Linked DNA regions of Homo sapiens: region 1 is linked to region 2. A link means that fine-mapping ties the variant in region 2 to the expression of a gene that starts in the linked region. Tissue or cell type: esophagus mucosa. Region 2 holds a variant in brackets; the other region holds the start of a gene. All regions are shown on one strand. Distances are from middle to middle.

What was found. PIP is the estimated chance that this variant, and not a neighbour inherited with it, causes the effect.
Region 1: LINC01239 starts here. The variant in region 2 is fine-mapped to the expression of LINC01239 in esophagus mucosa (GTEx, PIP 0.97).

What each region holds. Positions count from the first base shown.
Region 1 is chr9:22,641,742-22,649,933 of GRCh38, reverse strand. LINC01239 (long intergenic non-protein coding RNA 1239) reads right to left here and starts at 3,734. Exons shown (of 6, transcript NR_038977.1): 1 at 3,638-3,734.
Region 2 is chr9:22,764,545-22,772,736 of GRCh38, reverse strand. All of the region lies in intron 4 of LINC01239 (long intergenic non-protein coding RNA 1239), which reads right to left. Among named protein-coding and RNA genes, the nearest start is that of LINC01239, 120 kb to the right of the region's middle. The variant T/G (reference allele first, on the strand shown) is at 4,915.

The DNA.
Region 1 (8,192 bases), 120 kb after region 2:
AATTTGAGCTAAATTCTAAACTGACTAGCTCTAAAGGCTGTGCTTTCTCCAAAGGAACAGAAGAAAAACAAATGCCAGAAAAGAAGGGAAAGACGCAGAGGAGCAGATATAAGAGAGGGAACAAACAACCAAATAAGTTTCCATGGTAGGCTTTATTGAAATTAGGAAATTTCTAAGAGAAATTATTGTGGTGACCCCCAAAGCACAGAATAGGGGCTACAGTACATGAGGCAATGTAGTTTGTCTGTAAAATGTGTTGTGATCATGTCTGTAAGAATCTGCTATTTCCTAAGAAAGAGTACAGCTCTGGTATTTCATTCTGGCATTAACCCCACAGAGCTACAGTGACTTATCAGCATGCCTTTATCCATTAGTATAACAGAGAGAACAAAAATATCCGCTAGCCATTCATTTCTGCAAACAGAGCTCAAGTGTTTTGCAACAAAGTTATTTTCCTATGCTTATGCCAACTAGAGACGTTTTGACTCCTATCACAACACTGTCACTAAATCTTTTCAGTTAACCATTTCTTCTTTCTCTTGGATAAAAATAAGTTACAGTGCCTAAAAAGTAGAATTATCCTTTGAAATGTAAGTCTCCAAATAGTTTGAATCTTTATACATAGAAATTTTCATTATGAAATGTAAAGGATTCTGAAATTAGCCATCAGAGCCTATGATTGTTTTCCCCATTTTAAAGTTCAGAAATTCATGTGACTGTTCCATATTTTATTAAAATTTTAGCTGCTTAAATCTTTTTTCTTTAGGTTTTGAGAGGCAGGTGCAATGGAGCGGGCGTGCAGGAGGTTGTATAATAATTGCAACCAAAAGAAAAAAGATGCGTGAGTTAGACTCATTGGTAGCTGAAAAACATTAACAGCCAGAAAGTTTCCTTCTCAAGCTTTAAATAAATATTTTATGAAATGTCAATAAAATTTTTCTAAAGATTAGATCTTGCCTCCTAAGAACCTTCTTGGTGTCTATGAGTGGAGTATTTATATTGACAACTCTCAAACTATAATGAAATGTATGTCACCAGTAGCAGCCAACTTAGAATTGGGCACTCCAAAAATAACCTGATTTAGTGAAATAACAGTTATGGTCAGGCCCATGGGCAGGGTGAGTATGAAAGCCACTGCTTTGGGACAAAATGATTATATAATGGGCTGTTTCGGAGCTACCTTAAAAGGAAACATATCCTTCTATTGCAATGGGATATTTCTGAGTTCTCTGCACCCCTAAAGCTCTTCTTGTTGCATTATTAGCTATGTGAGGAAATCATAAAGGGGATAAATAAGGGAGTTGGTGGGGGACAGGAATCTATTACCTCATACTCCAAAAACACTAATGGCTCACTTACATTGGTTATATATGAAATTTGAACAACATAACATCTTTTAAAAAGTAGTTCCCCTAGGTGGAGGGAGATGGGTGAACAAATAGGATCAATGTGGAAAACTTTTTGTCTACAGCACTATTGAATTAACACTTTCCCAACATTCTAGACACCTCACATCAAATAGTGGAGTTTCTATCCATTTGACTCATACATTACTAAGTAGCAATAGCTTTCTTAAAATGTCCATTTGTTCGAGTCAGTCTTTTCCTTAGAAATCTAAAAGAATTTTCATATAACTCTCTTAAAATTAGTATTATTTTCTCTCTATCATATACACACACACTCAATATTTTACTATACCCAGCACTTTGGGAGGCCGAGGCGGGCGGATCACGAGGTCAGGAGATCCAGACCATCCTGGCTAACACGGTGAGACCCCGTCTCTACTAACAACAATACAAAAAATTAGCCAGGTGTGGTGGCGGGCGCCTGTAGTCCCAGCTACTCGGGAAGCTGAGGCAGGAGAATGGCGTGAACCTGGGAGGCTGAGCTTGTAGTGAGCCGAGATAGGGCCACTGCACTCCAGCATGGGCGACAGAGCAAGACTCTGTCATAAATAAATAAATAAATAAATAAATAAATAAATAAATAAATAAATTTTACTATAAAAGAAGACATTCCTGTGTGTGTATGCTAACATCAACTGATACTATTATTTGCACTTTGTCCACTTGAAATACTTTCGTATTATCACCAAACTCACTTTCAAATCCCTTTGTAAAGTACTGAAGAGAAAATTTAGAAAAGGGTATGAGAAAGCAATTCACATAAGAAAATAAACAGGTAATATAACGGAAGTAGTATCTATATTTGTGAGTCACAAAAATGAACTAGAAATCACAGTGAGATATCATTATTCACTTTACACAAATGAGAAGATAGAAATAAAAGCATCGGCTGGGCGCGGTGGCTCACGCCTGTAATCCCAGCACTTTGGGAGGCCGAGGCGGGTGGATCACAAGGTCAGGAGATCAAGATCATCCTGGCTAACACAGTGAAGCCCCGTCTCTACTAAAAATACAAAAATTAGCCGGGCGTGGTGGCGGGTGCCTGTAGTCCCAGCTACTCGGGAGGCTGAGGCAGGAGAATGGCGCTAACCCGGGAGGCGGAGCTTGCAGTGAGCCAAGATGGCACCACTGCACTCCAGCCTGGGCTACAGAGTGAGACTCCGTCTCAAAAAAAAAAAAAAAAAAAGAAAAGAAAAGAAAAGAAGTAAAAGCATCAATTTCACCACAAAAAATTAATTTGGAGGATAAAGTATAATATGAGAACCCACTGGCATGATAATAATCCAGGAATTATACAGACTTCCCCCTGTTAAAAGCAATGCTAAGCTAGATCATGTGTACCAATTTACAAAGGTAAAATCTTGCTCTCTGAGGGCAGCTGTCTTCTAAGACAAAAAGGGTGGAACTATTCGGAGCATGTCTAATTGATTTTTTCCAAATTTATTAATCAGAGTGAATCACTCCATCTTCTCTGGTAGATAGTGAATAGAAGAGCAGAGAGAGGCAAGGAGTGTAGCACACGGAAGACCACATTCACCTGGAAAGAAATATCAGGACTGAGGACAAGAATTCCTCTCCACACCTTCTCCCCACCCCATCACCCTGCCAAATTCCAGTACAAAATAGTTTCACTAGCTGGTCTATCATAGCTTTGGAAAATCCAATAGTAGAGATTCAGTTATTTGAATAGAGTTTCTTTTTTAATAACAAATGACCCCAGGAGGCAAAATACCGATAAATCCTATAACCTTTAGTATGTTATCAGAAACGAAAGTAGCCTTGAGAAAAGGAGAGATCAGACTGGAAAAAGGAAAACGGACTCAGAAACTTAGTTATCTCAGCTATGAAAATTAGGTAGTTGAACTCCTTGAAATACAGGGCTCCATCCAATACTATGTACCAATTGTGGGATAACTAGAAGTAAATACAGAGTTAAAACTGTAGTCTCAGTTGTTGTCGGTAATAACAGCAGAGATTGCAACCTAAAGGGAATGTGCAGCACGATCAGATGCACACAATCTATTTTCCACTTCTCTAGTGTGTCTCAGCTTGTTAAGGTTAAATACAGAATTTTTTTTCTATTTTGCTTTATCTGTCAGTATAAGATAATTAAAAAGAAGTGAACTTCCTTCATCCATTTATCTTGGATGGCATGCACACTTTATTCTGTTATCACCAAAAACATAAAACCTAGAGAAAATGCAAATTAAAATTTTTATAAATGTACATACCACATAGTTTTATAGACATCTATGTTCCACTCTTAAGCCAGGGTCAAAGTAGAATTCTCTTTGGTCTCTCTTCCCTTAGAGGAACAGAAAATAAAAGACCGAGAAAACAGACTGTGATGGAGGATTCATTATAAGCCAAAACCTGAATCACCATAATTACACACAGTTCATAAGTGCAAATCGTACCCATCTCTTGGCAGATTAAAAAGCCAAGTGATGAGTAATATTGCTGAGCTAAACATGCCTGTTTCATAAGCCACTCAAATCAACACTCCTGTTATCCCTTGACACACAGGCAAAAATTCTATCTGTAAGCCTAATAAAATCTCATTTGTTTTACCTGAAGGTCCTATGAACCACCTGGTGCCTCTCTTTGCACTTGTTTTTCTCTATTAACTTATGCTTTGTAGAAATTAAGGCTTTAATCTGATAATTCTTTCCACTAGCTTTTAATTATTAGGTTAATGTGTGAATTTGAAGCAAGCAGTCCAATATGAAACTATTAAGAAAAAAGTTGAAAATGCTGAATGATATTAGAAATTCTAGACGGTAAAATTTAGACAATAATTAGTCTTCTGATTTTTCCTAATGACAGTTTGTAGGAAATACAGGTTGAGCATCTCTAATCCAAAAGTTCAAAACTGGAAATGCTCCAAAATCTAAACTTTTTGATTGCTGACATGATGCCACAAGTGGAAAATTCCACACTTGATTTCATATGACAAATCTCAGTCAAAACACAGACAGAACTTTGTTTCAGGTACAAAGTTACGTAAAATATTATATAAAATTATCTTCAGTTTTGTGTATACAGTGTATATTAAACATAAATGAATTTTGTGTTTAGACTTGTGTCCCATCCTTAAGATGTCTCATTATGCATATGCAAATAAATATTCCCAAATCTGAAAAAAAAAAAATCTGAAATCTGAAACACTTTTGGTTCCAAGCATTTTGCATATGCGATAGTCAATCTATACTGTACAATGCTAGGTTATATTCACAAAAGAGTTGTTCACAACAGTCTCAACTTTTGATTAGAAAGTTGTTATTGCGGTAGCTAAATCTATAAACTTTTTAGCACATCAATATGGTAACTGCTACACATAAATATAAAATTTATTTTTAGCTTTAAGTTTAATGACTTCTCTTTAAAAAAAAAGCTAATAGTCAAATACAATGTATGTTTTCAAATTTAAAATATTTTTGCTTAAGAGTAAGATTTAAGCTTAGTGACGAGAAAAAACCTGAGACGTTTCTTGAGATATAAATATTGTAGCCTTTAATTATTAAGTGTTTTCAGAAGCAAAAATTAGCAGCCAACTATTTGCTAATAAAGAATTAAGTAACTTGTACTTTAAATACCTTATTGGTAAACTTACATCCTTTTTCTTGAAGAAATCAACCATACTAAGAAAAAAACTCACAGAAAGTTTTGTAAGTCAAGTAAAGGTTTGGTCTTAACACAGGCTCAGTTATGATGCCTCCACTGAAATTTGTTCAAGTGTGGCAGAATATGACAAAAATATTCCCAGTTTCTGTCGATGTATGAGCAGAGAAAGAAAAATGTCTATTGTTTGTCAAGTCACTAAAATTTCATGCTCCCTATTTTGTTCTTTTTATTTTTTCATTCTATGTTGCTCTGTCTCATCTGAGATTAGTGCCCTTATAAAAAGAGATATGAGAGGGCTTGCTTCTTTTGGCTTTCCTCCATGTGGGAATATAAGGGAAAAGCAGCCATCTGCAAACCAGGAAGCCAGCCTTCACCAGACACTAGATCTACTGACACCTTCATCTTGGACTTCCCAGCCTCCAGAACTGTGTGGTCACATAAGCTACCCAATGTATGGTGTATCTGTTTTAGCTGCTCAATCTAACACACATGGAGGAAAGCGGACAGGACACAAGCCCTCTCATATCTCTTTTTATAAGGGCATGAATCTCATTCCTAGGGTTCCACCCTCATGTCCTAATTACCTCCCAAAGGCTCCACCTATAAATACCATCATTTTAATGATTAAACTTCAACATACTAACTTGATTTGGGGGTAAGGGTATGCAGATATTCAATCCATAGCATCCTGCGACCTCCTCTTCTCTAACCCTCCACCAACCCTTGACAATCATGAGGAAACTGACACAAACTATATAACTATATGCTTATATTTTTTCTATCCCCATCTATTGCTGGATCATTTTCTATTACATCTTTGCCTTATTACATTCCAGAATATGAGTTTATCCACAGAGAGCTCATTGCTTCCTGAGACTGTTCAATTATGATTTAGACAACACTAATTACATTTCTTTTTAAAAATATTTTTTTCTGGTGTTGAACCAAAATCTTCATCCCTTAATTTTCCTCCATGGGTTCTAGTTCTGCCACCTGTTTTCTACATAGCAACTCTTTCAAAATATTAAACTTCAGATTTCACATGCTTCTGAGTTATTTGACTTTTCTCCATAACAAGTATCAACAGTTGTTTATGCCATTTCTCATATAAAGCACTCCTTGTAACTGAGGAACACTGTGGCTTCTACCCAAGGAGGAGAAACTATGCATATTTGAGTGGTGAAGAAACTGAAACTGAGTGTGAGAAATCCAGTTGATATAATAATCCTGAAAAAACATTAATGTTAAAAGCATGCATTCAAAGAAGATATTCTTAGGCAATTTTCTTTGAAGTCCATGTAGATTTCCTGCTTTTTTGAAAGTATTTAAAATCAGAGAATGTAATGAAAACACCTGGTTTCAAATGCCAGCTCCACAACAGCATAGGTTTGTGATGTTAGGCCAGCTTCTCTACTTCTCTGAGTATCATTATCTAAAAGTAGGGGAAAAGAGTCATTAATTTGAAGTTAAATGAGATAATATTAATACATTTAAAGTGCTTTAGTCAGTGGCGAGCTCATAATAATTCACTACATATTAGTTATGTTTTTATATTCACTGGAAAACAATCAATAGTTTTCTGTAAAGTTGATGGATTGCAAAATGGGGAGGAGGGAATCTACAGATTTCATCCTTTTAACTGGGAAAGATATTTAATACTGAGAATGGTAATAAATAGGTTCCCAAATTTTAAAATTAGATTTTTTTGCTAATACCTGAAGATAATTACCATTTATTAGCATCTTTTGGAAAGCCTGGAAAAGGAGCAGTTTGACAAATGAATTTAAATGACTTATTTGGAATTCTAATTTCTGATTATTATAAAGATGGTTTTGAGGTAGTAGCTGCCAAAGATGGGACCACAAGTTAGTAGTGGTAAAACTAATACTATTTTCCTGAAACAAAATTGTAAAATACATTATCAGAGAATAAAGCAGTAAAAGCTGATGGTTGAAATGTGAAAATCTAAACTTCTGATTACTGAAATAGCCAGTAGCATCCAAGTTTAAATTACCACTGAGTATATTTTAAAGTGCATTTATATTTATTTATATATCTATATAATATGTAAAGTATTATATTTAAGGTATATTTACATATAATATATAAAATTTATATTTACATGTAAAAACAAATTTGTGAGTTTATATATATAAATAAAAAGTAAAAATGGAATAATTGAGTATTAGAATATTTCATATTTACTTTATGCATATAGCAAGTTATAAACACCCTGTGTTTTTAATTTATCCACTTCTATTAGATTTTTAGAGAGTTCATGTGTCTGTGAAGAATTTTACTCCCAATGCACTGGTTTAATAATTGCATGGATAAATCCTAAATGAACTGATAACCACATATTTGTTGTGCAATTACTATATACTATGTGCTGTCCAATGGACATTATATAAATCATCTCATTTAACCATCTCAACCACCATGAGATATAATTAAAATTGCCTGTTTTAACAAATGAGGATCAAAAGAGAAACCACAACTCTCTGAGAATGAATAATTTACCCAAGACTTGGAGCCGAAAGGGTCAAATTTGAATTCAGGTCTGTCTGAGTCTGAAACCTATGCCTTATCATAGGTTTGGTATGGGTATTTTAATGAGAAGGAAGTAAAACCATGAATATTTGCATGACCTAGAAAATTATTATCTGGTTCAGGTCCCACTTTTTCATGATGTAACAATGTATGACTTTCAATTTTGTTGGGAACATTTTGAAACTCTTGTGATATTTCAAAGTTTTACCATATAAAATATTGACAAGAATGCATTCTATAGGTGCTTTCCAAAGAGTTCAAAGCATCTTGCTAGAGCCTCCTTATCTGTGTTTATATGCGTTTTGTGTGTTCTAAGAAAAAGTGCTTTCTCTACAATGCAAAATACATAAGATCCATAAAATGACTTTATTAAGGAGAAAAGGAGACAATACCGTGCCTGATACCGTCCTGGTTCCCCTGCTTCACTACAAACTTTATTTTATTTTTACCAGATGGTGCTGTATTTTCTTTTTCTTTATAAAAGAGGCTACTTGAAGAATTATATTTCAGACCGTGCACTCTACTCTGTTAAATGGATAGTCACTGTTATGTCAAAAACAGACAAAAAGTTAATTTGGGTTTCCTAGGCTGTAGAGAATTTTAGGAGTCTCT
Region 2 (8,192 bases):
AAACAAACAAAAGCAATTAGAATGGATTTAAGATATTCTAAAAATAAATGCTTACATTTCAACTCATCTTTTCTTGGTAAAGTCTTTCCACAGTCCACCACCATTAGGCTATACAAGGGGAAATACTGCACAAAATAACAAACTAAAATTTAATGTTTATTTCAAGGAAATGTTTTTACATCTCTCTTGAGAGATGTAAAAAAAAAAAGTGAGAAGAGAGAATGTGAAAACTGCTGCCCAAAAGTGAGCAATATAAGAAAAAAATGGTGTGGCAATTGTGCTTCATAAGTATCAAACAAGAACAAATAGCAAGAGCATAGTATGCAAAAAGGTAGACGAAGTACACAGTGCTGAAGAAAATATTCACGAATCAAGAGTTATATCCAATCACTGCAAAATGTAGAATAATTTGGTATGACTAATTTAGTAAGCTTCGACTTTAAGCATAGGATTGAAAGGTATATTTAATTGAGATTGCAGACTTGCAAAAACATAGAAAATCACTAAAGAACAATAATCTCAAACTGACAAATAAACACAGCCAAAACTTTAGTTACTTCTGAAATTCTCATCATAGAGAAAAAGATTGGAATAACTCTAACCAATGTAGATAAAGAAGGCAAATCAATTAGGCCATTCAGAAAGAACCTGATAAATCCAGAATATAGATAAGCCTAATGAAAATAGTTACGTTTGAAGTAGGAAAGTCATTAAATGAAATCGCAGATACATTTAAATACTTATGATAATTTCTCCTATAGTGAAGAAAGAACTGTATCTGTAAATCAAAAAGTACAGTATTTTAAAAAAGTAAAATCAGACACACAACATCAAGAAAAAGCAGTATTTACCAAGTTCTAAAGACAACCAATTGTGATCCAGCTCAAACCTCATTCTGGTGTGAGGATAAAGTTGTAGATGCTCAACTATAAAAAACAACCCCATGAATAATAATGAGTAATATAGCATGAATCTTTCTTATAAACAATAAAACAAAACAAAAACCCAGGAGTGATAAATTTGAGCTAATTAAAAGGTAAATAAGAAGTCAAAATAATAGTGGAATGGAAAGCCATCATAAAATGATTGTAGATGACATGTGATTCCATTTAAATAGAGAACAGATACAAGATAATTTCTCAAGTTGTGGCTATATAATCAAAGTTAATGTTATGAAACATATAAAATGGAATTAATAAACTAAGGGCATGAGGCAAAGGATCTAATGTCCTTATTTTTCATATCAAAGTGAAGAGATATTGTTTAAATTTGAAACACCATATTAAAAAAGGAAAAAGAAAAGAGATTACAACCACTTACTGTTCTTCATAATCTCATTTCTTACCTTAGGGAGAAAATTGCTTTTAAGATAGAACCTCATATAATAAAGAAATATTTAGCTGATGGTCAATAATTCCTTTATTTTTACTTAAGTTTGATTTTAAAATTAGCTTCTGGAGTGTTCACTTCGGCAGCACATAAAGTAAAAATTAGCTTGTGAGCATTATGAAGTAAAATGGTTGAATTTACCTTCCCACCAAAACAATTAAAAAGCTGAACAAATACAGGACAGAAATTTTTTTAGAATTTGGACAGCAAGCAGCAAAAGACTGTAGTCACTGAGAGAAGCCACATAAGCAGGGTGAGCCCCAGGATCCCACTAGCTTTATTTCTAGAGAAAAATTCTTAACCACACTTAACCATGATATTAAATGGACGACAAATAGAGCGCAGTGGATATGTTGAGTTGAGAAAACAGGGATCAGATTTGAGGGAGGGTGAAATGACTAAAAACTGGGGAGATGCTGTAGAGGGGAGGGAATTACTAAGGAAACAAGCCCTAGAAATCTGTACAGGGATCCCCTTGAATACTAAGCTATGCATGGATGAGGTGGAAGTTTAAGATTAGTAAAACGACCCCTAGTAAGCAGAAAGGTAAAAACTTCTCAGCTTTCATAGTGCTGTGAGCCACCTGAGCTCTGGAAAGGCGGAGTGAATATTTGTTGATCACTCAGTACATTCAGCAGAAACCAGAAAAGAACTATAGTATGGTAGTAGGGATTACCCATCCCCAGAGTAAGAACTATTCCAAATGAGCTCTTACAAAAGGCTTTAAAATAAGCCTGCAAGTAATCAAATTGATCCACAAGTAACAGCTGCATGCCTGTACAAAATCCAACATTTTAAAGGAAGACAACAGACCTAACACACAGCAACATACATTCAAAATATTGCAATTCCCGTAAAATAGGTATAATGATGACAAGAAGTGGAAATATGTGAGCCTTACCCAGTAGAAAATCAAACAATGAAATTATCACGGAAAGACTTTGAAACAAATATTATGTTTAATGTGCTCAAAATGTAAAGTTATACAAGAAAATAATGAAGGAAAATAAAAATTATTTTAAAAGGACAAAGTAGAACTTCTAGAGTGAAAAAAATAAAAAATTTACTGGATACATTTAACATTAGAATAGATACTGCAAAAATAAGAAAAAAAGACTGAAAAAAATTGTACAGAGCTTCAAGTGTATGTAGTATCAGATGGTCTAACATATGGGTCTTTAGAACACAAGAAAAAAGGAAGACAAGCATAAAATTTTTGAAGAAAATAACATCTATGGTTTCCAGGTTTAAATAAAACTCCAACCTTACTTATTTAATAATTTTACTAAACGCCAAGGAGGATAAACACAGTGAAAACCACATTAAGTAGTGCCATAATCAAATTGCTAGAAAACAGTGCTACAAAATCTTTAAAGCAATAAATACTTCTGACTTCAGCTCCTACACGGAGTTTGGAAGTTGTGACTCTCATCTCTACACCAAAGAAAAAACTCAACAAACTGAAAATCAGTGAGTTTTCTCGGACTCATCAGAGAAGAAATTATTTGCAGGATAAAATTTATCACCACAAAATGTAGAGACATGTGAATCAAGAGTCACAGTACAAATCTTCTTACCTGGAGTGAAAACCACTGGAGCCATAAATTGATAAATACACTTAATTGGTCATTTTGATGAAATGTTGATGGCTGATTGCAGATGAGTTTAAGAATGAGAAACTGCTGGGGCTGCAATAGGCAGGGGGAGTGGAAGGGCAGGTGGAACATTGTGTGTCTTACCTCCAGGAACCCTACCAGGACCTCATAGTGAAGATCTGAAAAAGATCCTTTTGTGGCTCTAGCAGAAGAAGGGAAAAAGAAATAAGCTAACAGCATCCTTCTATTACAAACGCCTACTGTCCACAGGATAAAGCTTTGCCATAGCTTTATCCTACTTGGAGGAATGGGCTTACTCTCACTGCAACCCTCTTGAGCCTTCCTGTTTCATGCACAGTGAAAGAAGGAATTTAAGAAACACTTGTGAAGGTCAGAGCCAGGAGCACAGGCCCAATAAAATAGCAAAATTTAATTTTAATATTACAGAATGCTTCCTCTCCTTCACAACTTACCACCAAAAAAACAGGGCTCTAAAATAATACATTGTATTTCAGCTAAAAGAGTTGTGAGACAAAGATTATTTGAGGAGGAATACTGAGGGAAGCCCAAGTCAACCAGTGACACAAAAATAAGGTCACTGGAGAAATTTGAAACCTCTGACACCTGCAGACGCATACACATTAAGCACAGCCCATCAGATATTAAATACAGTTTAAAGCACCCAGATTAACAAAAACCTTTACACTAAACGTGTACTTCAGTTTTTATTACCTGATACATCATGTCTGACTTTAAACATGGCAAAAGGCAAGAACGAACAGATTCTGAAGAGAAAAAAAGTATCAAAACCAGATGCAGATATAAAGTTGACAATGAAATTATCAGAGAGGGGATTAAAATGAACTATAATTAATATATTAAAGGCTTTAATGGAAAAAGTAGAAAATTTTTTGTGAAGTTTATATGAGAAGATAAAAGACCTAGAATAAATAATCAACCTAATAATGAAGAAGAACAAATTTGGAGGACTGACACTACCAACAAAAGGAATCAGGGCTTCTTAGAGAAATATCTAATTCTAAGACGTGGGCAGTTAATATGCAAGATGAGTTTTTGGCATCTTATAGTGTTTGAAAATGAAGAAAAATTTAAAAAGTGAAACAAACATACTAAACACAATGATGTATTATGTCAAAGGGACTAAGAGTCACCTGAAAGAGCTCCCATTGTCCAAAGCTGGAAACATCTGAACAGTAAAATAAAAGGTGGTATTGTATTATAAGCCAAAGTATAAAGTACCCATGTAATTATCCATGAATCCATATTGATATGAATAAATGACTGAACAAATAGAGATGAATGTCAAATAATATATGTAGATACTCTACCTTCAAAGAGGTGAAGCATAAATCTTTATTACTCAATTGTGAATTATGCGTAGTGACTTGCTTCCAAATGGTGCTATATAACAAGGGAGGAAAAAGAATAACTTTACAGTAAGAAAATCTGCAATTGCTACCTCATCCAGGTAATCATGGTTTACATCTACAATGTTATGTACACTTGGCATACTGTGATAAAATAGCTTTTCCACGATGATTTACCTCCATGCCTTACTTCTGTGCCTTCCCTCCATGTATCCCCATCATCCCAGTCTAATTATAGGAAAGCATCATACAACTCTCATTGTGGGAAATACCTGACTGTACTCTAGAAAACTGTCAAGGTTATAAAAACATGATTATCAAAATTCTTGTCTGAGAGTGTCACAGCCAAGAGGAGCTTAAGAAGACATGATGACCAAAAGTAATTTGGTATTCAGATGAAATCCTGGAACAAAAAAGAACATTATGAACAAAATCTGAATAGAATATGGATGTATTTAATACTAATGTATAAATATTGCCTAATTAATTGTAACAAATTTACCACACTAATGTAAGATGTTAAAACAGGAAAAACCTGCATT[T/G]ATGGGGGTAATGGCAACTCTGTACTCTCTTCACAATTTTTCTGTAAATCTAAAATGGCTCTAAAATTAACAGTTTATTTTGAAAAAGAGAGAACAGGTAAACTTATAAAGACAGGAACAAAACTAAAATTAATACAGACTGTTCATTAGACAGTAGGAAAAAATGCTTGAAGAGCTGAAAGAAGAAAACCATAAACTTAAAATTTTATATTCATCAAAAATGTACTCCAGATCCTTCCTATTACATATAGAAACACGACATAAATGTTAACTATCAGTCTTCCTATCAGCATTGTACTGATGAACTAACTCATCAAACAAAAAGAAATATGAGCTATTAGGTTGGGAAAGTGTGATAGATTGAATTTCAGCCCAAATTCTTTCTCCCCTCTTTATATCTGTTCTTTTCGTATACAAGTTTCAAGTACTGTCCAAGTCTGGGCAGGAAATTTTACTCAGCCCTTAATGTTGTGATTCATAGCTTTGGCCACGTGCTGTTTGTAAACAAGACACAAATAGAGACTTCGCACATACTTAGATAATTGGACTTGTTTACCTTTGCACCTCTACTTTCACCATGAGAACTTGCCCAAGTTATTCTGAAGAATGAATGTGGGACATATGGAGCTTCACTGCATAGCCAGCCAACTGTAGACAGAAAATGTAACTCAGGAAGACACAAACAAACAAACAAACAAAACACAAACCAAACAAACAAAAATCCCACCAAACCTAAATCTCTGATTTTCAAATTCACAATATGAATAATTATTAGAACAGTGAGTTTAAAGTCAACTTTCTACATAGTATTATTGTGGTAATACGTACTAATACAGAAAGAGTAAATTTTTATTCTAAGATGATATAATTTCATGTAGAAAATTCAAAATAATCTACAGACCATTATAATTCAAAAATGGATTAAAGAAGTTGGGTGGATCCAAGGTTAATGTAGAAAATTTATTTGTGTTTGTATATGCCAACAATAAACAATTATAAATAAAAATTTAAAATATGATTAATAATTTCATAAAAATTCACATAGTAATGATGCAGTAAAAGATATACAAGACTTTTATTCTAAAAATGTTGAAATGTTATTTGGAGAAACTAAAGAATACTTAAAACATTAGAAAGTTTATGAAAGTTCAATATTGTTAAGATGCCAAATTACTAAATATTGATCTATAAATTTAATATAGTTGCAATCAACATGTCAGCAATTTTTTTGGTGAAGATTGATGAGCTGATCATAAAACTTATATAGAAACAAAAGTTCCCCCAAAAAACGAAGACAATCTTAAATAGCAAAGAACAACATTAGAGGTCTTATATTCTCAAATTTCAAGACATGATAAAGTTATATTAATTGAGGAGTTAATTGTGCATTGTTAGACAAATAGACCAATGGACAGAAAAGAAAACCTAGAAATATACCCACATATTTCCAGTCACTCCAATATAGTCACCTAATTAGAGCAAAAGAGGATGGACTTTTCTGTAAGTGACAGTAGAATGTTTGGTTATCTATATGGAAAAATTATGAACCTTGAGATTTACTTCATACTATTCTTAAATATAAATGTGAATTTGATCTTAGACCTAAATCTAAAATTAAAGCAGTCAAACTTGTGTGGGGAAAAAAAAAAACAGAATATATTCCTGACTTAGGATTACGCAAAGGTTTCTTAAACAGGAAAAGCAATGACAACAAATATAAAACTCAACTGAATTACATTAAAATTAAAAACTTCTGTTTCTCAAAATCATGATTAAGAATTGAATAAGCAAGCCACAGACTGGAAAAAAATATTTACAATACAAGAATCTGGTAAAAGGCTTATATCCAGAATGCATAATACACTCCTACAAAACAATCAGGAAGAGGTAAACAATCCAAATTTTAAAATGGCAGAGATGATCAGGCAATTCACAAAGTAGCATATTCAAACCAAAGATATATGAAAAGGAACTCAACTACATTACTATCATTATTCATCAGGAAAATGCAAATTAAATTCAAACTAAGATTATAATTACACATTCACCGGAATGTTTAAGTAAAAAATAATGAATACTAAGTGTCAGTGAAAATGCGCAGAATTTTGCTGGTGGAAAGGAACATTTTTACAATCATTTTAGAAAACTCTTTGACACTATCTACTGAAATAAAACATAGACTACTATGTCACATAGCAATTCTTCTAAGTGCATACTCAGATAAATCTGGGCATATAATCACAAAGCACATGTACAATAACCTAATAGAGCTTAATTCATAACAGCTAACACTTAGAAGCAATGCAAATGTCCAACAGCAGAAAAGATAAACAAATTGTGGTATATTCATACAAAGTAACACTGAGCAATCATATTAAAAAGAACAAACTGCTGATATAATAAATAACTTAATAAATCTCTAAAACACTAGGTTGCACAAAGGAAGCCAGGCACAAATGAATATATATTTTATTATTACAACACTATGAATTTGAAAGTCAGGGCAAAATAACCTAATTGTATTTTGTCATCCTAACCTTATACAGGGAATCCAAATTCTCATAAATTCTTGTTCCTGGTAAATAGCCATCTAGCAAGTCCTGATCCTGATTCTCAGCCTCTATTAAGGTCCAGATCAGCAACTATCCTCATGGAAAAATGGTAAGAAATCTTCAGTTGCTTCACCACTCCCTGGAGAACTTTACACCCCTCCCTGTTTTTCCCATGGATTCTTCTTCTTTTTTTTTTCATATTTAATAAAATGTTTTATTTTAAAGTTAATTAATTCATTTAATTATTATACTTTAAGTTTTAGGGTACATGTGCACAACGTGCAGGTTTGTTACGTATGTATACATGTGCCATGATGGTGTGCTGCACCCATTAACTCGTCATTTAGCATTAGGTATATCTCCTAATGCTATCCCTCCCCCCTCCCCCAACCCCACAACAGTTCCCACTGTGTGATGTTCCCCTTCCTGTGTCCATGTTTCTCATTGTTCAATTCCCACCTATGAATGAGAACATGCAGTGTTTGGTTTTTTTGTCCTTGCGATAGTTTGCTGAGAATGATGGTCTCCAGCTTCATCCATGTCCCTACAAAGCACATGAACTCATCATTTTTTATGGCTGCATAGTATTCCATGGTGTATATGTGCCACATTTTCTTAATCCAGTCTATCATTGTTGGACATTTGGGTTGGTTCCAAGTCTTTGCTATTGTGAATAGTGCTGCAGTAAACATACATGTGCGTGTGTCTTTATAGCAGCATGATGAT